Linked DNA regions of Homo sapiens. The protein of the gene in region 1 purifies or fractionates together with the protein of each later gene. This does not show direct contact. Each region holds a gene or a part of one and is shown in the gene's direction. Other genes may lie near its edges.

Region 1 (8,146 bases):
TGCAGTGAGCCGAGACTGCACCACTGCACTCCAGCCTAGGTGACAGAGTGAGACTCCATCTTAAAAAATAAATAAATAAAATAAAATAAATGACATCACTTTGGTTCAGAGCTCTAAAATGGAGGGAGGAAGCCATTCTAAAAAGGACTCCCTACATGACCTGCAACTTGAAAAAAAATTAAAAGCTCCAAAAAAAAAACAATACAGGAGCTTACCTTGAACCTTTGAATTGGGCCAAATTGCGATGACCACTGCATCCTGGAAAATTTTATTTCACCAGCACTACAACTCCTCAACAGCACCAACCAATAAACTATGGATTTTTGTACTAAGCCAGTTGCCTCTTTCAAAACAACTTGTCAACTTGTCTAATCACCCTCAGCTTTTTTTAAAAACCCCTCCTCTACCCTCTCTCTTCAGAACACAAGTGGCTTCTAGCTGAATCTGTCTCCCAAATTGCAATTCCTAAGACCTCAATAAAAACACCTTGTCTTGCTGCTTTGCAGTGTGGTCTTTTGCCCCTTGGATGACATTAAATGGTGTCAGAATTGAGTGGGACAAAAAAGCAACTCCCTTCTTTGTTCTGGTGCGGCCACGGATTCGAGCACAGTTCCTGCAGGAGGAACCCCTTGTGTTCCACACCTCTCCCATGGCCACGGATTCTGTTTACGAGTTGTCTCATTCCTTAACCCCCTACCTTGGTTGAGGTTCTTTATCCAACGTCCTTGGTTGCCAGCTGTCCAGTAGCTGGGATTACAGGCACGTGCCACCATGCCCAGCTAATTTTTGTATTTTTAGTAGAGACAGGGTTTCACCATGTTGGTCAGACTGGTCTCAAACTCCTGACCTCAAGTGATCCTGCCGCCTCGGCCTCCCAAAGTGCTGGGATTACAGGTGTGAGCCTCAGTGCCCAGCCAAAATTCTATTTAACTTGATTTTTCTCTTCATGGCCAACTCACTGTTTCATTTGTGAAACTACTAGGGAAATTTCAGACTAGGGAATATTGAGGCACAGAAAATGATGGTACTTTGGCATGCTGGATGCTTTTGAAAATGGAAAGGCCTGAGAAATACACTTGAGAGTCAAGGTCCCTCCAACCTTGTCTTATTCTTGCCTCAACCAAGGGCAGAGAGGAACTCCCTCTGGAATTTCCTTGTCTGACTAAGAAAGCTTCTTACTAAAAGAAACACAGTTGCCTTCTATTCTGTCCTTCAAATCTCATTATCTATCAAAAAATGAAGACTGAGGAATAGAGCCACATATGGATGGACCTTTTCATAAGGCCTGCCCCTCAGGCTCATTCAGATTCCAAAGAGAATCATTTACAAGTTAATTTCTGTCTCCCTGGTCCATTTACTCTCCCTTATAATAATTTACTGCTCCTCAGAAGAATTACACACGTTCCCCATCTCCTTACTCTCCTATGAAAAAGGGTATATAAGCGTCCACACCCCATTGGGGGTTGGGGAATCATCACTCTGATGCCTCCCCTCCCCACCAGGCACGTTAATAAAACTTGTATGTCTTTTCTCCTATTAATCCGTCTTTTATCAGTTGATTTTCAGTGTTTTTTTTTTTTTAGCACTTGTTTGCAGGATCCAAAAGCTGCTCTGCTATTCTGGAAGCCACAGTCAAGGGACCCAGGACCCGAGCAGCTGGCAGAAGGACTTGTACCTTCTGTTTGTCCCATTGTATCCAAGATGTTAAAATCATGATGTCACAACATTTAGACATTTAAATGGTTAATCAAATGTATGTCTCTCCTGATATACAGCTAACTGCTATAGACTAATGCAGGCCTCCTTGTTAAAATGGACCCTTTGTTACTCAAATTTGACCAATCTTGGAAGCTTGGATGTGCACTGACTTGACAACCACTTTTTGTGGGACATAACACTCTAGACACAGGTGCTTCTAGCTCTAAGGGGAACAGATAACTAATCTGTGGCCAACCAACCAATGATTAATCAGCTATGCTGCCTCGGATCTTGATCAAAAAAGGAAAATGTGAAAAGTGATACACAAAATGGCATCACTTTGGTTCAGAGCTCTAAAATGGAGTTGGGAAGCCATTCTAAGAAGGACTGCCTGCACAATCTGCAACTTGCAAAACACAAAAACAAAAAATATGAACTTGCCTTGAAGCTTTGAACTGGGCCAAAACTGCAATAACCACTACATCCTGGAAAACTGAATTTCACCAGTGCTACAACTCCTGAACAGCGGCAACCAATCAACTATGGATTCATGTACTAAGCCAGCCACCTCCACCAATGATAATTCTTTCAAAACAATTTGTGTATTAACCCTCTGCTTTCTTTTAAAAACATCTACTTCTCTCCCTCTTTTCAGAACCCCATTTGGCTTCTAGGTGAATCTGTGTCTCCCAAATTGTAATTTCTAAGACCCCAATCAAAATGCCTTGTTTGGCTGGACGTGGTAACTTGCATCTATAATCCCAGCACTTTCGGAGGCCGAGGCAGGTGGATCACTTGACCCCAAGCTGGCCAAAATGGCGAGACCCTGTCTCTTTTCTTTTTTTTTTTTTTAATTAAAAAAAAATGCCTTGTCTTACTGCTTTGCAGTGTGGTCTTTCACCTCTTCTTTTTTTTTTTTTTTTTTTTGAGACAGTCTTGCTCTGTCACCAGGCTGGAGTACAGTGGTGCGATCTTGGCTCACCACAACCTCCGTCTCCTGGGTTCAAGCGATTCTCCTGCCTCAGCCTCCTGAGTAGCTGGGATTACAGGCGTGCGCACCACACCCGGCTAATTTTTGTATTTTTAGTAGAGACAGAGTTTCACCATGTTGGCCAGGATGGTCTCGATCTCTTGACCTCGTGATCCGCCCTGCCTCGGCCACCCAAAGTGCTGGGATTACAGGCGTGAGCCACCATGCCTGGCCCTTTCACCTCTTCTTGGTTGACATAAGCAATCAGTTCTACAGCAGATACCAGCTGGGTATGCTCCAGTTCAATTCCAACACTAACTACCTGGCGATATCATCAGACCCCATAGGTTAAGGGCTCAGTCCCACAAAACTGCCACCCACTTCTGAGGCCAGTTGCCAGCCCCAGGTTGTTTCACCTGCGCTTCTGACTAACCAGCTATAAATTGCATTTCCCACAACCCTCTCTTCATGTTCAATTAATTTGCTAGGGCAGCTCACAGAACTCAGGAAGACACATAGACTGACTTCTTACAAGGGATGTTACAAAGGATTCAGATGAAAAGATGCATAGGGCAAGAGCTTCCACGCATGCCCTCTTTGAGTGCGCCTCCCTCCAGGAAACTCCATGCATTCAGCTATCTGGAAGTTCTCCAAACCCATTTCTTTTGGGATTTTATGGAGGCTTCATTACCTAGGAATGATTGATCAGCTTAAGCTTCAGCCCCTGTCTCCTCCCCAGAGGTTGAGGGGGAGGGCTGAAAGTCTCAAGCCTCTAATCCTACCTTGGTCTTTCCAGTGACCAGTCCCATCCTAAAGCTACCTAGGGACTGTGAGTCATCAGTCAACTAATTAGCATACAAAAAAACACCAATTTGCTGATTCCAAGGATTTTAGGAATTGCATGCCAGGACAAAGACCAAATATATACTTCACATTATCACAGTTATCTTGCAAGGCAAAGGGACTTGGCAGTTGGAGAAATTATCCTGGATGATTTGAATGGGCCCAATGTCATCACAGGGGGCCTCAAGAATAGAAGAATCAGAGGGATCACTACTGAAGAAATCAGAGTGATGTGATGTGACGAAGACTCAACTCACCGTTACTGATTCTGGAGATGGAGGAAGGGTCCGCAAGCCAAGGAATGTAGGCAACCTCTAGAAGCTGGGAAAGGCAAGTGAACAGATTCTCCCCTGGAGCCTTGGGAAGGAATACAGCCCTGCTGACACCTTGATCTTAGCCCAGCAGTCTCATTTCTTTTGACCTCCAGAGCTGGAAGATAATAAATTTGTGTTAAGGCAGTAAGTTTGTGGTAATTTATTAATAGCAAGAGAAAACGAATATAGCTGCTAGTATGTAAAAGGTGGAAATTTTCACATAAAACTCTAGCCATACCAAAGATGAGTAGCAGCTGCCCCCTTTTAATAAAGGATGTGTTTCCAATTTCACTGCAGTCCTCACCCCTCCCTTTTGTCTACCCCAGCCTCCTATGTCCATTTACATGAACTACCCAGTCTAAGTATTAAGTTTTGTAATCGTATACTGAACTGCAGTGTCTCCCAAACAGTAATCCTAATTTCAGCAGCTAAAATAGAAGCAAGCAAATCCAGCCTTCTTAAAATGATTAATCCTATCAATAATAACAATCTTTTCATTTGTATAGTGTGGTCTAGGTCAAGTTACTTAATTTATATAAGCCTAAATGTCCTTCTCTGCACAAGGTGGGGCAAGTTACAGTACATACCCGCTACAGTCGTTTTGAAGACAAAATGAGACACAGCATGAAAAGTGCATCCACCAGACCCACCTGGTACCCAGTAAGGCCTAGGTAATAAACAACGGCGGAAATCAGTGTACTTCTGCCTCACCTGCCACTAGACATTTGGGTTGTTTCTAATCTTTGGGAAGTAAACGCATTGCTCAACGTATTGCTTTTTCTTTTATGTGACTACTGCCTGAAGTCACTTTCCTAGGAAGAATGGATCGATTAGAGAGGCGGGGCAATACCTTTTACCTGCTGGCAGGTGAAATTTCGCCTCCTGGCGGCGTCACCTAAAGTCCTCTCCCTCCAAGGCGCGCCCTCCGCGGCCGGCAGGGGGCGCCGCGGCCGCCTGGGCCCGCCGGATGCTAACAAGCCTGGCGGCCTCGCCCCCTGCCGGAAGTGGCTGCGGCGGGGGCGGGGCCTACGAACTGGGCCGGGCGGCCGTGCGGGAGCCATGGCGGCCTCGGAGGCGGCGGCGGCGGCGGGGTCCGCGGCTCTGGCGGCGGGTGCCCGGGCCGTCCCGGCGGCCACGACAGGAGCCGCCGCCGCCGCCTCGGGCCCGTGGGTGCCCCCGGGACCCCGACTGAGGGGCAGCCGGCCGCGGCCCGCGGGGGCGACGCAGCAGCCCGCTGTCCCCGCGCCGCCGGCGGGGGAGCTGATCCAGCCGTCGGTGAGCGAGCTGTCCCGGGCCGTGCGGACCAACATCCTGTGCACCGTGCGCGGCTGCGGCAAGATCCTGCCCAACAGCCCCGCGCTCAACATGCACCTAGTCAAGAGCCACCGCCTGCAGGTGAGCCCGACGCGGCCGGCGGCCCGGGGGGCCGGGCCTGGCTCCAACAAAGCGCCCGGCGCCGGCGCGCGAAGCCGGCCTCGGGGGGACGAGCGCCCTGCGCGCTGCCGCTGCCGCTGCCCCACCGGCCTCTGCCCTCCCCGGCCGGAGGCGGCTCTCGAACCCTCGCGGCAGGCGCCGCAGGTGCGGCCTCTGGGGGGGAGGAGGAGCTGGGAGCCCCGGGTCCGCCGTACGCGCCAGTTCCCTGGTTCCCTGGCTCCCTGGCCCCGAGTGTCGTGCCGGACGCCGGCCCAGGCTTTTTACACTTTTTTGCCTGTGAGTTCTTAACGGCGTTTTGGCGAGGGACGCATCGTCTCCATTATATTAATGAGAAACAGATTATGCAACCTAGATGATGCGGGGCTTTAAACCGGGGCCTCTGGTTCTAAAGCCCTGTGCTTGCCACGACACCCACAATGCCGCCCTTGGGTCCTGCCCAGTGGACTGTATGTGCCACAATAACTAGAAGAGAGGGTTTTAAATGTTCTCACCACCAAGAGACAATACGTTTGAGGTCGAGGACATGTTAAACACTCTGACTTGATCACTATGCAATGTATATGTCCATCCATGCTGCACACCGCACCCCATCAGTAGGAATAATTACTGTGTGTCGATTATGAATAAAAAAATGTTTTAAAGGAGCGGTAGGTTTGCCTCTAAACACCATCAGTCAGTTTCACGGTGTTGGTAAGATCAGCTCAGGACTGAGACCTAAGGGAAATTGCCCCTGTGGCTCTTCTTTAAGAGGGGGACACAGTAAATACACCATGACAATAGTCTCAACAACCCTCCACGTTATGCAAAACAGGGCAGTCATTTTCAACCTTGGGACACATCTGTGACAAGCTTATTAAAAATCCAGATGTCCAGCCCCACCCCGGACCTGTTAAGTCACAATCTCTCAGTCATTACAATGGCAAGTTTCCTTCCACCACTCTAGGCCAGCAGTGACATAATTCAAAAGCGCAAGTCATTGAAAGCAGTTCTGCGAATATGTAGCTTTTGATGATCAGGAGTAAATTTAGAGTACCCAGAATATTGCATGTTCTGTCTGCCCATAGTCAGGCTTCTGATAAGAATTTCACAGCAGAAAACTCTGAGGTTGTAGTCTCTAGTAGGACAGATGTGTCGCCAATGAAGAGTGATCTGCTCTTACCACCATCTAAACCGGGATGCAACAACGTTCTCAATTGAAGATCAGGGAGCCAGTCAGGAAATGTACCTGAGGTATGCTGAGGAAGACCGTGCAGGTGGGGCCGAATTGTTGGACTGAAAAGCTCTGGGTTTCTTTCAGCACTCAAGTGTAACTCTGGGAATGGCTTTCAACCTGTTGTTTTGTTTTCATACTAAATTTTAACTAAATCCTTTTCTTCCCTATTGTTTTTGTGTTTTTTTGTTTGTTTTTGAGACAGAGTCTCACTCCATCACCCAGGCTGGAGCGCAGTGGCGCCATCTCAGCTCACTGTAACCTCTGCCTCCGGGGTTCAAGCAGTTCTCCTGCCTCAGCCTCCCTAGTAGCTGGGATTACAGGCACCTGCCACCACACCCTGCTAATTTTTTTTTGTATTTTTAGTAAAGACAGGTTGCACCATGATGGCCAGCTTGGTCTCGAACTCCTGACCCTCAGGTGATCCACCCACCTCAGCCTCTTAAAGTGCTGGGATTCCAGGTGTGAGCCACCGCGACCGACCTAAATCCTTTATTTAATCATAACTTAGGTGGATGAACTATTTCTTAATAGTTTCTGTTGTTCCTTTCTGTGGAGTTGTTGTTAGGAGCTCTAGCTCTTTAAAGACCCTGGTAAACATCTGTTGAACATAAAGATACCATTTGCCTTTCAGGACTGGTTAGTATACAGTAGGTTTGTTTCTAATTATGTTGGGTTTTTTTTGTTTTGTTTGAGACAGAGTCTCACTCTGTCGCCCAGGCTGGAGTGCAGTGGCGCCATCTTGGATCACTGCAACCTCTGCCTCCCAGGTTCAAGCGAGTCTCCTGCCTCAGCCTCCCTAGTAGCTGGGATTACAGGTGCATACCACCACGCCCAGCTAATTTTTGTATTTTTAGTAGAGGTGGGGTTTCACCATGTTGGCCAGGCTGGTCTCGAACTCCTGACCTCAAGTGATCCACCCGCCTCAGCCTCCTAAAGGGCTGGGATTACAGGTGTGAGCCACTGTGCCCAGCCAGGGCAAACTTTTTTTTAGCAGGAATTATACCTCACCAGATCCATCATTTTTTTCTTGACAAGCAGACTGACTTTCCTGTCTTGTCCTGGCTTTCTAACCGCAGTGCCCAGTGGCCCCTGAGCAGCTCCTGTCTTGGTGTCTTCCTTTAATGAAGGTTGTCTGTGTGATGCAATAGCCATCTATATGATGGTGCCCAGTATGGAGATCTGTACCTTGTCTGGTTACTACATAGAAGGCTTTTCAGGGTCTTGCTCTGTTAACCCAGGTTGCTGTCAGGCTCTTGAGCTCAAGTGATCCTCCTGCTTTAGCCTCCCCAGTAGCTGAGACTATAGGCTCCTGCCACCATGCCCTGCCTCAAACATTGTTCTTTTTGTTTGTTTGTTTGAGACAGTCTCACTCTGTCGCCCAGACTGGAGTGCAGTGGCATGATCTCGGCTCACTGCAACTTCCGCTTCTCGGGTTCAAGCAGTTCTCTTGCCTCAGCCTCCCGAGTAGTTGGGACTACAGGCATGCTCCACCACGCCCGACTAATTTTTGTTTTATTAGTAGAAACAGGGTTTCGCCATGTTGGTCGGGCTGGTCTTGAACTCCTGACCTCAAGTGATCCGCCCGCTTCAGCCTCCCAAAGTACTGGGATTACAAGAGTGAGCCACTGCGCCAGGCCTCAAACATCAATGTTGATACCTGTTTTCAAAGTACTG
Region 2 (7,291 bases), on another chromosome or scaffold:
ATTCAAATATAGAGTATTTCTTAAGAGTAAATATGAGTTTATTTTGAGATCATTGGTCACAGTCTACTGAGAAATCCACTGAGAAAGCTGTTAAATTTGCATGGCATTAAAGATGTTCCTATTCTGATCATTGTTAAATAGATCTTTTTTATTAGATATAATTGTTTTTGAGACAGTTTCGCTCTTGTTGCCCAGGCTGGAGTCTAATGGCATGATCTCCGCTCACCGCAACCTACGCCTCCCAGGTTCAAGCGATTCTCCTGCCTCAGCCTCCCAAGTAGGTGGGATTACAGGCATGTGCCACCACCCCTGGCTGATTTTGTATTTTTAGTAGAGACAGGGTTTTTCCATGTTGGTCAGGCTGGTCTGGAACTCCCGACCTCAGGTGATCCGCCTGCCTTGGCCTCCCAAAGTGCTGAGATTACAGGCACTAGCCACCTCACCCAGCCCCAGGAGATTTTTTTGTGTTGTGCCAACAAATAAGCCTAGGCAGGGAAATTCTTTCTGGTGGTTGGAATTGTTAGTACTGAATAGACTAGATGCGAGGTAAAGAACCCCCATGGGGTTTTCTGTCAGCTCAGAAATCATTGTGACCTCAGTCTTTTACTGTGAAATAACATGACCATTAGGAAAGTAGCCTTAAACAACGTATTTTGGGTATGTTGAGAGGGAGGGACAATTATGATCTGTTCCAAAGTGAACATAACAGATGATCCCTGTGTCTGTGAAGCCTTTAAAATTTATAGTGCTCTTCTATTAATTTCAAGTAAGATTTAGAGTTATTGTGACATACTCTTAAAAAACCTGCAGTGTATCAAAAGGCACGTTTTTAAAGCATCTTGAAATGAAATTAATAATGTAATATCTACTTCTTCAGAATAGTAGTTTTTACATTCTGAAGACTGACTGACTGCTCTCAGCCACTTCTGAGTTCTCTATTTTCAAAGAATAATTTGGTATTCCATAAAGGAAATCTGTAAATAAGAGAAGAGAGTGAATATCTTTTAACAGTGTTTTTCCTGATCTTTTCCAAACATCTTCATTGTGGTTCTGTCCTTTATTTTTTGGTTAAATCCAGAGGTTTACTTCTGCCTGTATCTTTCCAAACTATTAATCTGTTCACAATCACTTTCCCATTTAAACCCTTCAGCAGCCCCAGTACCTTCGTAATAAGGTCTCCTTAGCTTGGTATCCAGAACACTTCAATACTGGGCTTTGACCCCTGTTCTCCTTCCCCTACCTCTGTTTAGGTGCTTCACTGAGCTGCACTGAACAGCTCTTGGCCCCTTGAAATCTCTGCAGTCTCCTTGTCTCCCTCTGCTGGAATATTCTTCTCTCACTTCATCTGATCATTGCCTTCAAAACTCAGCTCATTTTCTTATTTCCTTGCCCTTTTCATGTCCCTTGTTTTCCTCCGATTAAATTAATGTTCCAAACTCAAAAGAAAAACAACTCAGCTCAGGCATCACCTTGCCTGGAAGGCTTCCCTAGTCCTCCTGCCTCCTGCAGACTTGTCTGGCACCCTGTGCATTTGGGATTTGGCACACTATGTCTCGTCTGCGGCCTCCACTGGACAATGAGACCGTAAGTGTGTGGCTTGACAGAAAGTTGTTGACTCTGCTGGGGTGCTGGTACAGTGCTGGGCACGGCAGTGTTACAGAGGAAGTGAGCCACTTAGTTTCTGCCCTTAGGAGCTTTTATTCTAGTTGCACTTGACCCTGACAGCTGTGAGACACCTCCCAGTAGTGCGTACCAACTTTTCAAAGTCTGTTTAATTGTACCTTAGTGTCTGATTCCAATTTTATTTCTTGAAGGAGGGGAGTGTCTCTAATGTCTTATTTTGGCACCCAGAGACCAGGTAGGCATCATTTTTATCCCAAATTGTGGAAGGAATGTACATTTGACACAGATCACTTCCCTTTTTTCTCTTGTACACCTTTCACCTTTTTTTTTTTTTTTTGAGTTTGATGTGTTTGGACAGTAAGGGTTTAAGAGATTAAGATTAAATTTCAACTTTGTCTATTGTGCATATAGCCTAAGGAAAACAAAAAGTTAAAGAGGAAAAATACATTGCCTCTAAAAAGAAGACTCATTATTCAACTTTTTTTATTTTTAGTTGTTTTCAGAGACTGAGTCTCACCCTATCACCCAGGCTGGAGAGGTGATCACAGCTCACCGTAGCCTTGAACTCCTGGGTTCAAGGGTTCCTCTTGCCTTAGTCTTCTCACTAGCTGAGACTGCAGGCCCGCACCAGCACACCTGGCTAATTTTACAAAAATTGTTTTTGAGAGACGTGGTCTTGCCATCTTGCCTAGGCTGGTGTGGAACTCCTGGGTTCAAGCAAACCTCCCGCCTTGGCCACCCTAAGTGTTGGGATTACAGGTGTGACCCATTGTGCCCAGCCTAAACTTTTTTTTTTCAATGCTGAGCTGTACACAGAAGAAAGTAAAGGTCTTGGTCAAGCCTAGGAAAGAAGTATGCAAAGAAACTGGTGGCAGGCTGGATGTGGGCATATTTCAGGGCTTTGGAAGGTGAAGAGGAGAGGACTGCTTGAGGCCGAGAGTTCGAGACCAGCCTGGGCGACATAACGGGACCCTGTCTGTACAGATAAACATTTTATAATTAGCCAGGTGTATGTACCCTAGAACTTAAAGTATAATAAAAAAAAATAAAATTCGCCAGGTGTGGTGGTGCGCACCTGTGGTCTCAGGTACTTGAGAGGCTGAGGCAGGGGGATCTCCTGAGTCCAGGTGTTTGAGGCTGCAGTGAGCTAGGGATCACACCACTGTTCTCCAGCCTGGGCTACGAAGCGAGACTCTGTCTCTAAAGAAAAACATACTGGTGGCATTGTCAAGATTTGTCAAGAAATAGCCATTATGCTGGACCCAGTGGTGCGCACCTGTAGTGCCAGCTTTTCAGGAGGCTGAAGTGGGAGAATCTCTTGAGCCTAGGAGTTTGAGTTCAGCTTGGGCAGCATTGCAAGAGCCCAGTCTCAAAAATATTAGGTCAATAAGGTTTATTTTAATTAAACAAGAAAAAGAAATATCTGCTAAAATTTAAAGCTATTCTATTCTTCCTCTCTCTCTTCTAGTGTTCTTGGGGAAGATCCCGACTAAGCCATTTTCCAGTGGCACCTCTTCCATCATGAGTTCCTGAGGCAGTCCGATGGGGCTACTTTATTCCAGAACAATCACAGTGAGACCTTTTCTCCCAATAAATGCCCCTTTTCTCTCCTTAATATATTCTCTTGCTTACAAAACACTGGTGTCTCCTTATCATGGTTTGGTTCTACCCCACTGGGCCCAAGAATTCTTGCCCAGGAGCAACTGAATTTTCTTCTTGCTTGCTTTTTAAAACTTTGGTGGGGTAGAGCCAATTTTAAATCTTCTGATCCATTTTTTCATTGTTTTTCTCGCCCTTCTGCATTTTCTGCAAATTCTGTTGAATCATTGCAGTTACTTAGGTTTGCTTCGTCTCCCCCATTACAAACTACTTACTGGGTTTTTCAACCCTAGTTCCCTCATTTTTATGATTTATGCTCATTTCTTTGTACACTTCGTCTTGCTCCATCTCCCAACTCATGGCCCCTGGCTTTGGATTATTGTTTTGGTCTTTTATTTTTTGTCTTCTTCTACCTCAACACTTATCTTCCTCTCCCAGTCTCCGGTACCCTATCACCAAGGTTGTCATTAACCTTTCATATTATTCCTCATTATCCATGTATTCATTTGCAAATAAGCGTATATTAACAAAATCACAGGTTTATGGAGATATAATTCACATACCTTAAAATTCAGGCTTTTAAAGTGTACCTTTCATGTGGTTTTTGGTATATTCACAAAGTTATGCATTGATCACCACCATCTGATTCCATAACATGTTCAATACCTCAAAAAGAAGTCTGTACTCATTAGTAGTCATTTCACATTCACCACTCCCTCTGGCTCTGGGCAGTCACTGATCTTTGTGTCTCTATGGATTTGCCTAGTCTAGGTATTTTTATGTAAATGGCATCATACAACATGTGACCTTTTGTTTGGCTTTTTTCATTTAGCAAAATGTTATCAAGGTCTGTCCCTGTTGTAGCATGTATTAGCACTTCATTTCTTATATGCTGAATGATATACTTTATTTGTCCATCAGTTGTTCATGCTTTATTTGTCCATCAGTTGATGAACATTTGCGTTTTTGCCACTTTGGGCTATTAAGAATAATGCTACTGTGAACAAGTGTGTACAAGTTCCTCTACAAATTTTTGTGTGGACATATCCTTTCAGTTCTCTCAGGTGTATATCTGGGAATTGAATTGCTGGGTCGTGTAGTAGCTATGTTAAACACTTTGAGAAACTGCTATAATGTTCTCCAGAGCTGTACCATTTTAAATTCTGTGTATGAGGATTCCACGTTCTCCACTTCCTCACCAGTGTATGGATTTGGGGGTATACTTTTTAAAAAGTGGGATTAGGCTGGGCACAGTGGCTCACACCTGTAATCCCAACACTTCAGGAAGCTGAGGTGGGAGGATCACTTGAGCCTAGTAGTTTGAGACCAGCCTGGGCAACATAGGGAGACCCTGTCTCTACAAAAAATAATTTAAAATAAATTAGCTGGGCGTTGTGGCACACACCTGTAGTCCCAGCTACATGGGAGGCTGAGGTGGAAGGATTCCCTGAGCCCAGAAGTTTGAGGTTGCAGTGAGCCATGATGGCAGCACTATACTGTAGCCTGGGTGTCAGAGCAAGACTCCGTTTCAGGGAAGAAAAAAAAAAGTGGGATGATATTTTTGACACTTTTCTTCTTGTTTTCTTAATTTCATACTTCTGGAAATTCCATTAAATTAGCTGGTACCACTCTAACTCATTGTGTTTCATGGCTGCATAGTAATATTGCATAATATAAATATACCATTCATTCATCAAAGTTAGCAGATATTGACTGTTAGGTGCCAGGCACTGCTCTAAGCGTTAAAGAAAAACACACAAAAACTTTTGCATTCTTAGAGTTTATTTTCCAATGGAGGGGGTGGAGGGAGGTAAGAATTTAGGAAATAAATTAATTACATATATAGCATAGGGTTTCACCAGTGAGTGCAGCTTGAATCGTTGGCAGCTTTCTTAGTAGTATAAATACAGTACTAAAGATGAAATTACTCTAAATGGTGTTACTTAAATTACTGGAATAGGTATTACTATTAGTCACTTTGCAGGTGAAAGTGGAAACACCATCGTAAAATGTAAAATAGGAAACAGCTGGTTAATGTGGATCTGGAGTTTTTCTAGGACATAAACTGATGAGCCAGAAAAGTAAATGTGTCAGTCCTTGGTAGCACAGTTTGTACGTTTATAAATTTTATCCAAATCCTCTTAATCTAGTGATTAATAGACACTCTTCACAAAAGGATGAGGGAGGTATATGTATATGTGTTGAAAGGTTCCGAAGGATGCAACCGAGAGTACTTCGGGGGACGTGGCAAAACTTCCAGGCCCATTCAAGAGTCTTGTTTTCTCCCTGAGCTTTTATGTATTTATTATATTGCCCTATTAATTATTGAGATTGTGCCTTACAGTAAAAGCTGCTTTAAATTGTTGACGCTATAATTTAAAATAATCTGGGTCACCTAGAGTGGTTAAACCTGGAAGAAAAGGATATCCTTCCTGCCAGGGCAGATTGTATGTAGATATGCAACCTGGTTGCGCCTGTGCTGACCTCTACTCTGTTGGGCCTGGAAGTATGCAGTTCAACGTTTCTCTTCTGATTTTTAAAAAAAATTTGACTTTGTTTACTTTTTATTTTATTTTAATTTAGAGACAAGGTTTCACTATTTTGCACAGGCTGGTCTCAAATTCCTGGGCTCAAGTGATCCCCTTGCCTCGGCCTCCCAAATACTGGGATTACAGGCATGAGCCACTGCACCTGGCCTTAACTTTGAAATGAAGTTAGAAATGTACATTTTATTTTTTTAATTATTATTATTATTATTTATTATTTTAGAAACAGGTCTAGCTCTGTTGCCCAGGTTGTAGGGCAACAATGGTGCAATCACAGCTCACTGCAGCCTCCACCTCCTGGGCTCAAGTGATTTTCATGCCTCAGCCTTCCGAGTAGCTGGGATTACAGGCATGTGCCACCATGCCCGGCTAATTTTTTGTATTTTTAGTAGAGACCAGGTTTCACCATGTTGCTCAGGCTGGTCTTCTGACCTCAAGTGATCTGCCCGCCTCAGCCTCCCAAAGTGCTGGGATTATAGGCGTGAGACACCACGCCCAGGTGAACAGAATAGTTTTCCATTCACCACAGTTTGTGACAGTCTCTACATTGTGAAGTGACAAGTTCTCTTCTATTTTCCTTCTGCCCCTCATCACCTTTTTCTTCCTCATTTCTTTTTTGAATTTTGCTGTCTTGAATTGATGTCTAAAGGATGACATAGCAGACAAGGGGACTGACACATGAACTCTCATGAGTTACTGAGGAGTTTCTCAGTGCTCTGTCTGCATCATCTGCTCACTCTCTCCTTCCTAGGTGCTAGCCTGCCAACCTGCTTTGAGAAATTGGAAATGAATTGGGGGGTAATCAGCCTCCCCTTGTACATGTAGGGACCGCATCTCCAATGCCTTGCTTTACATAATGACGAATGGTGTTTTGCTTACCTACTTCCACACAAACTGCTGATATGGTTAGGATTTGGGAAAGGGGAAGAAGGGAATTTTGGGTTTTGAGGAGTAGCTGGGGCTTGAACAAAGAAGAGGTAGTAATGAACATTCCTGGGGTGAGGCAATTAGTTAGCTGAGGGAGAAGAAGGCATATAATAAATTAGGGATTGACAGACTGTCTGTAAAGGGCCAGACAGTAAATGTTTTAGTCATTGAAGACCTTAAGGTCTCTGTTGCATCTAATCAACTCCATCATTGTAGTGCAAAAGTAACCACAGCCACTACAGATGTGAATGAATGTGACTATGTTTCAATAACATTTTTTTTTTTTTTTTTTTTGAGACAGTGTCACTCTGTTGCTCAGGCTGGAGGGCAGCAGTATGACCACAGCTTATTACAGCCCTGACTTCCCAGGCTCAAGTGATCCTCCCACCTCAGCCTTCCAGGTAGCTGGGACTATAGGCATTTGCCACCGCCCCCCATTAGTTTTTGTATTTTTTTGTAGAGGCGGCGTTTCACCATGTTGGCCAGGCTGGTCTTGAACTCCTGAACTTCTGGGCTCACGCTCTCCACCCTACTCGGCCACCGAAAGTGTTGGGATTACAGGCATGAGCCAGTGTCCAGCCCAAAATAGTCTTTTG
Region 3 (7,324 bases), on another chromosome or scaffold:
CCCTAGGGAGGACAGAGCTCCCTTAGAGAAGGTATAGTGTCCCCCAGAGACCACAATGCCTAATGGAATGCAGAAGATGTTCGGTGGACAACCAGCAGACACTCTCGGGGCTTCCCAGAGATTCCCAGGGGGAGACGTTGCATCAGCTGGGAAAGGGCTCCAAGCCAGTGCATTCAGAACGTGAGCACTGAGTCGACATCTCTTGCAAGCACTTGTAGGCGCCAGTGACTGAAATGTCTGCATTATGTGTGGCTGTGTCTAGAAAAAGGAAGACGAAAAATAATCATTATCTCTGAGTATAAGATTATGGTTATTTTTTAACTTTTAAATAATTTTTCAAAAGTTTCTGTGATGAGTATTTTGTTTATTGTATTTTATTTTTTGAGACAATCTTGCTCTGTCACCCAGGCTGGAGTATAGTGGTGTGATCTCAGCTCACTGCAGCCTCTGCCTCCCAGATTCAAGCTAGTCTCCTGCCCCAGCCTCCTGAGTAGCTGGGATTACAGGCATGCACCACCACACCTGGCTAATTTTTGTATTTTTAGTAGAGACGGGGTTTCACCATGTTGCCCAGGCTGGTCTTGAACACCTGACTTCAAGTGATCCACTCGCTTTAGCCTCTCAAACTGCTGGGATTACAGGCGTGAGCTACTGCACCCAGCCTGTGATGAGTATTTTATAATAAGGAACATCACTCATTTTTAAACCATCTCTGGCTTCCTTATGTTCCTCTTGCCTCCACGCCTCCTGCTGCCCCACCACGCACACACACTCTGTGTTCTCATCTATGCATAAGAATGGAAACTCTGGCTTTTGCTGGGGTTCTGTCCCCCAGGGCACAAGAAGGAACCGGGGTGTAATAGGCCTGGGCTTGACTTGGTAGTTTGTAATCTGCCTAGCTGGCAGCCATGGCACAGCAAACTCAAGCTGGGTGACCTCCAGGCACTTCATACTTTTCGGCATTAATAAAAATCACTGCACTTTGTTGACTTTGCTATTTCCACCCACAGGGGAATGTACAAATACATGAAATGTACATGAAATCTGCTAAATGATCCATTTAACCATGTGGTAAACACTCTGTATACCTGTTTCCCCTGCCAAAACAGTCCCCTTTGTGATATTTTACAGGGTCATTTGATTTAATTCCCTAAGTCAACACAGGGTTTGTTTTCTTATAAAGGAAAAGAGGATAAGGCTTTTCAAAATTAACTGACTCAGGACAGTTTACCTTGAGGGTAAACCAAAGGACATTATGAGAAAGGGTGCAAAGGAGCTTCTGGGTTCTGGTAATGGTGTTTCTTAATCTGGATGCCGGTAACTTGGGTTTCCTTTGTGAACATTTATCAAGCTGTACACAGGATTTGCACATTCTTACCAGTCTCACCACAGCCTCCTCCTCGACCCTCTCCTCCTGGCTGGCTCCCCACATCCTTCACTCCCCAGGAGGGCGTCTCATGACTCCTCAGTGGAGGCACTGCCTACTTTTTCCTGTTTGGGTGTCTCCTAGAACCTGCAAATCCCCTTCATAGCACTAATTGCAAGAGAAATAATCTGGCTGCTTTTGTGGTTATTGGTTTCATGTGTGTCTCTCACTAGATTCTAAGTCCACTGGGCTTGTGTGTCCGCTGGACCTGCTGCTGTGTTCCCTGAGCCTGGTGCAGTGCCTGGCAACATGGCATGAGAAACAGTTTGTAAGAGAATGTTGGAGAGGCAGAGAGGGAGACAGAACAGTGGGGTTGGGGGAAGAAGACAGAAAGGAGAAGGGGAAGGAAGGAGAGAGGAAGAGTTATGTCTCTCAAGATCTGGGTATTCTGAGGCATGGCTACAGGTTGGTGAGTGGGAGCACTCAGGAGTGTGTTGACATGATTGAGTAAGGAGTCTCTGGAGAAAGAAGTCTCTCTCAGAGAAGGTGGTCTCCCTGTGGGCAAGATTGGTTCAAGGACTGTAGCCTAGGTTCATAAGGGGAGGACGGGGACCCTGAGCCTAGTCTGGCTCCAGTTTTCTTCTGGCTCGAAGTGATTGCAAAAAAAGAGCTATTTCTTTGCATTTCTTTAGGACACTGAGCACTAAATGTCAGCGGCATGAGTGCAGGAGCCAGTCACATCAGGGGCAGTCATGGCGTGGCAGAGGAAGTGCAGGTATGGCCACAGCACAATGGCAATGACGGCATTTCCTACACCCACAGTTGGCACTCGAAGAACAGCCCTCACAGGCCAGGCTTGGACAGCCATAGCAGGATCAGTGTATTTGGTAGACACAGGTAGTGGCAGGGGAGGCCCCAGTGGGGCTCCGTGACACAGAAGCCATCACATACAGTGAAGGAGATCGAGACTCAGAGGGAGAGGAGGGCTGTGGTGGGTCCCATGCATGCCGCAAAGGACTGCATCTCAGGGCAGCTATGCAGTGCTCAGCAGGGAATGCCAGAAAGGCATTGGAAGCATTTAAGGGGCATGCCACACGGCCTTCAGAGTTGGAGCAAGTCCAGCTAAGAACTTACTGTTAGGTGTTGCCCAGTTTATAGCCTTCGGCTGGAATTCTCTGGAAAAAACAAATCACTGAGAATTGGCTTCTAAAGAGCACCTATAAATGGGAGGAAGAACACCAAAGAATCAAAGATGCCAGAAAAGAAAACAGCCCCTGGGATTTGTGCACAGGTGTTCTTGACAGGGTCCCTCACCTAAGCCATTCTTCCGGCACAATTATCACCCAGAGCGGCTTGTTTCTTGGCACCTAGAACACTCCATCGGGAGCTGTTTCCCTTTTTAACTCAGTACTCCCAAAGACTGCTCTGGGGATAACAGCTCCCACTCTTAGGGGGAAAAATATATTTTTAGAGATGGGAGATGACAAAACCATCATCAATAAGCAAGAAAACTCCCAATTAATTTTCTTGAGACACTGTCTTGTGATATATCCTTGTGGGTAGGGCTTTCTGAAGCATTTTCTCACCATTTTTTTCTGAAACTATGGCTTTCCAACATTTTTCATTGCATGCTCTATTAGTAAAATCATTTTGAACATGCACCACAGATATCTGCGTATTTATTCACTGATGATGTTTATGCAATAGTGTGTGTGTGTGTATTGTTTACTGTATTTATAGTGAAATTTCTAATAGAAGGTGTCCGCTGGGATGCAGGAATCCCACTAAACAAACACAAGGCAGACAGGGTAAGCATCATAATCCTCAGCTCACGGATTAATAGACTAAGATGGGAAGGGACTTGCCCAGGTCACACAGCCAAAAGTTGCAAAACTGGGGTTAAAACTCATATCCATACTTTCCAGCTTCTCAGATTCTTCATTCATGTGCCAAATATCCCTTTCTACTCATCAGAATTTGGGAATGGACCAGTCATAACAGTTTTTGGTGATTTCCACATTGTTTCCCTGTTTTACCTATTTTATCATTATTGCCTATAGCATAGGGTGTGCCATGCGATCAGGGTTCTGGAACTGGCTTCTAAAGAGCACTTATGAATGGGGATGAAGAACATCAAGGAATTAAAGATGCCAGAAAAGCAAATAGCCCCTTGGATTTGAGAACAGGAAACATGCACTTTACACGCCTCATCTCTTTCTGCCCCATCCAGCAAGCAGGGATGATGCAGAGACCTTCCCTGGGTCTCGCCATGCCCAGGAGTTAATGTGTTCTACAATGTATTTGTAGAAAGAAGATACTGCGTCTAGTAGAAAGAGATGTGATATGATTGACGTGGAGTGGCCACTCTTGATGCAGGAGACATGGCAATTGTACTTTCCTGTATGAGAATGAGGCCTGAAGGAAGGTTGCTTCCCTCAGTCTTTTCTCAGCAGAGGGGTTTTGTAAAACAAACCAAAACAAAACACAAATTCCCTGAAGCAGAATAAAGATAAAGAAACTTAAATATCTGGAAACAATGAAAACTGCAAGAGCCAAGAAACGGGCAGCTTAGGGGCCCCAGGAAGTGAGGTGGGATAAGGCAGAGATAGGCTTGGGGCGGAGAATCTGGAAGCTGTTGCTGTTTACATTCAATGTCCTCTCTCTCTCCAAGAGGTGGCAGGCCACTGCCCAATGCTGAAGTCACTGTTTAACGAAGGTGGAGCCTGCCTTTACCTGGTACACCCATATAAGGAAAAGCCTGAGGTCAGGAGTAAGCAGACACCAGCACTGCTCTTTCTCCAAGACGGCCGGCCATGCTCTCCTCCTCTGCCAGTCTCCTCCACCACTCTCTAACCTGAGAGCCTGTGGAACCTGCCCGTCTCCCCTCCTCCATCAGACACACCTGCCTAGGAAACAGGTAAGTTGTGCGTGGTCATGTCCCAGAGCTGTGGACCAAGGCAGTCCTCTAAACATTAGTGAGCATGTACAATTTTCTAGAGAGCTTCATGATGTCGCTTCTGAGTTCCCACCTCCCAAGGTACATATTCAGTAGCTCTGGAAGCTGGGTTTTTTTGATGCAGGTGGTCCAAGGATATGCTTTAAGAAAAACTAGGGCAAAGTGGGAGTTAATTTTCTAAGAGAATCTAATCCAAACTTTGCATATTTCATGCAAAGAGAGTATTTCTTAATCATTCTGTCACCTTCGATTTCTGATCATTCTAAGTTGTGACCTTGAGGGCTGTGTTCACCGTAAGGGACACATTGATGGCAGAAATCATGTCTTCTTTGTGCACTGATGTGTAGTTTCTGTTAGATAGTAGGTGCTTAATAAACATTTGCTAAAGGGAAGAATGGGACCTGGGCCCTTTGTTTTCTAATCATCTAGCTTATTAGTTATAGGAATGAAGTTGACAACTCTGGGTTAATCACAAAAGACAGATCATTACAACTTCAGAGATTCAGGAGGTTCCTATATGCCTCTAGTGGTGTCATGGTCACACACATGTGTCTCTGTAACTGCTAAAGTTATGTAATCTTTGAGATGTGATGCTGTTCTCAGGGAGACAGTTCCAGCTGCTCAGCTTGGACCCAAGTTAACCAGATTAGAATAAGTGCAGATATTTTCCCTCTATAGTTACAGTTGGGTCATGAACTACTGACTGTCCCATTTGTCCTGGGTCACAAACACAACTTTGGTTACCCCCGAGTGGCATTAACTAGACTTTCAATCAGATTATCCTCTTGAATTGTCTCACCTTTGTACCCACCTTGACATAAGTATTGTGGGTTTTTGTTGTTGTTGTTGTTGTTGTTGTTATTTTGAAGGTTGGAGGAGTGACAGCTGTAGGGAGGCTTACTTATTAGTAGATTGGTTGATGGAAATGTAATAATCTACCAACTGTGTAATAGGCAAAAGCTATATATAGCATGAGTTCATTATCCCATTTTGTAGATGGAAAAAGTGAGGGACCGGTGAGTGACTTGCTGCAAAAGTTTATACCAGATGCAAATGACAGAGCTGGAGTTCTGCTGTGCCTGGTAGGTACCCTGTCTTGTCCCCTAGTTATTTGGTTGTATTCAGTTACCCTCTTGAAAGAACACCTTAGAAGAAAAGATGCTATGAAGAAATGCACACATTAAGCCAAGCACTGTGGCTCACACCTGTAATCTCAACACTTTGGGAGGCCGAGGTGGACAGATTGCTTGATCCCAGGAGTTCAAGACCAGCCTGGGCAACATGGTGAAACCCTGTCTCTACAAAAATAAATTAAAAATTGGGGGTCTGGGAAAAAATATTAGCTACATGTGGTGGTGCACACCTGTAGTCCCAGCTATTGGAGGCAGGGGGAGGGGTCCATGGTTGAGGTGAAAGGATTGCTTGAGCCCAGGAGGTTGAGGCTTCAGTGAGCTATGATCATGCCACTGCACTCCAGCCTGAGTGACAGAGCAAGACCCTGTCTCAAAAAAAAAAGACCAACCTACTGGCCCTGAGGCTCACTCCGTATCAAGCATTGTGCTTGATGCTTCCATATGGTGAGCTGTGTGATTTGGGGCATGCTCCTTAACCTCTTGGGGGTCCCAGTTTCCTCATCACTAAGACATGGTAGCAACAGTAATCTACCCCAAAAGATCAGTGAAAGGATCAAATGAGATCCTATATGGAAAGCACTTAGCAGTACTTGAGCACATGGCAAGTGCTGAAGATATTTTAGTCATTATTGTTGACATTATTTTAGCCTGGGTTCTCTATAAAACAAAGCCTGAGGCAAAGCTTAAGTGCTACTTAGCACTTAAGGTAAGACACCAGGGGAGTGAGAGTCAGGGAAGTGGGAAATGGGAAGAGAAAAAGGGGAAGCAGTGAGGGATGATGTGCCACCACCTGGCCTCTCTTCACAAAGAGACATGACCAGCCACTTGGCCAAAGCAGGGCCCCTCTGGACTGGCGTTGCAGATGCATTGTGCCTTGGAAGAGTCTATCCGAGCAAGGGTAGAGAGGACATTTATATGTTGGCTCACTCTGTCTCCTCTCTTATTGTTCAAAGCTTGCCCTATGGGGAGTTAACTGTCCTGCACTTCCAGCTTGTGTCTTCTGACCCCTGTGGCAGCCACTGGGAAAACTAGATCTAATTGCTAGAGGCTTGGCACCTCATCTGAGTCCAGAAGTGGTCAGAAGAGCCACTTCCTTGGCTGGAGTAAAAAAGGGACCAAGAGTCCTAGAGACAGGTTGAGGCTAAGAGAACCTGAGATGGCACCTAAGAAAGGTTTAATAAAGACTGAATTATCATTAATATCTGCTGAACACTGCGTACAGCACTAATGTTCCTGCCTAGATGTCACCTCTTTCTCCCATGAGAAAACCATAAAGGGGACTTTGGATAGGCTGGTCCATTCCATCTCTCCTCAAGGTTTGGAAGAAGTCAGGTTGAGGGCATCCTAACTCTCTCAGAACGTCCATGGTGGAGCATGCCACTGATAGACAGCAAGGAAGTCCACGGCCATGCAAAAGATGGGAGCAGAATCAAGAGGAGGTGTTGATTTTCTACCACCCTTGGGACTCTATCTTTTGGTCAAGTGTTTCCTAAAGCATGGTATACATAGAACACTAATTTTGGGGGCTGTTGCTGGGGGCTCCTTGATATAAAGCATTTATGATCAAATATTTGGATGAATGTTGCCTCCTACTCTTCCCTCCTCAGAGAGTTATGATTCCAATTTACTTAAAAAGGCTCTGTTCACGCCTGTAATCCCAGCACTTTGGGAGGCCGAGGTGGGCGGATTGCCTGAGGTCAGGAGTTCGAGGCCAGTCTGGCCAACATGGTGAAACTCTGTCTCTACTAAAAATACAAAAAAATTAGACAGGCATGGTAGCATGCACCTGTAATCCCAGCTACTTGGGAGGCTGAGGCAGGGGAATTGCATGAAGCAGGGAGGTGGAGGTTGCAGTGAGCCGAGGTTGCG

What was found.
Region 2: the proteins of ATMIN (region 1) and SPECC1L purify together in Homo sapiens (affinity purification with mass spectrometry; 2 studies listed by BioGRID and IntAct, with this or other methods). This does not show direct contact.
Region 3: the proteins of ATMIN (region 1) and CAPN13 purify together in Homo sapiens (affinity purification with mass spectrometry; 2 studies listed by BioGRID and IntAct, with this or other methods). This does not show direct contact.

The regions. Positions count from the first base shown.
Region 1 is NC_000016.10:81,030,987-81,039,132, forward strand, and holds the start of ATMIN (ATM interactor), read left to right. Parts: upstream 1-4,855; 5' UTR 4,856-4,884; coding exon 4,885-5,220; intron 5,221-5,750; exon of another isoform or gene 5,751-8,146. Other genes in the region: CENPN (centromere protein N), read left to right, coding at 1,584-1,708. UniProt on the Homo sapiens protein: Transcription factor. Plays a crucial role in cell survival and RAD51 foci formation in response to methylating DNA damage. Involved in regulating the activity of ATM in the absence of DNA damage. May play a role in stabilizing ATM.
Region 2 is NC_000022.11:24,273,609-24,280,899, forward strand, and holds part of SPECC1L (cytospin-A), read left to right. Parts: intron 1-3,091; 5' UTR 3,092-3,195; intron 3,196-7,291. UniProt on the Homo sapiens protein: Involved in cytokinesis and spindle organization. May play a role in actin cytoskeleton organization and microtubule stabilization and hence required for proper cell adhesion and migration.
Region 3 is NC_000002.12:30,804,261-30,811,584, reverse strand, and holds the start of CAPN13 (calpain-13), read left to right. Parts: upstream 1-4,138; 5' UTR 4,139-4,283; intron 4,284-5,318; exon of another isoform or gene 5,319-5,404; intron 5,405-7,324.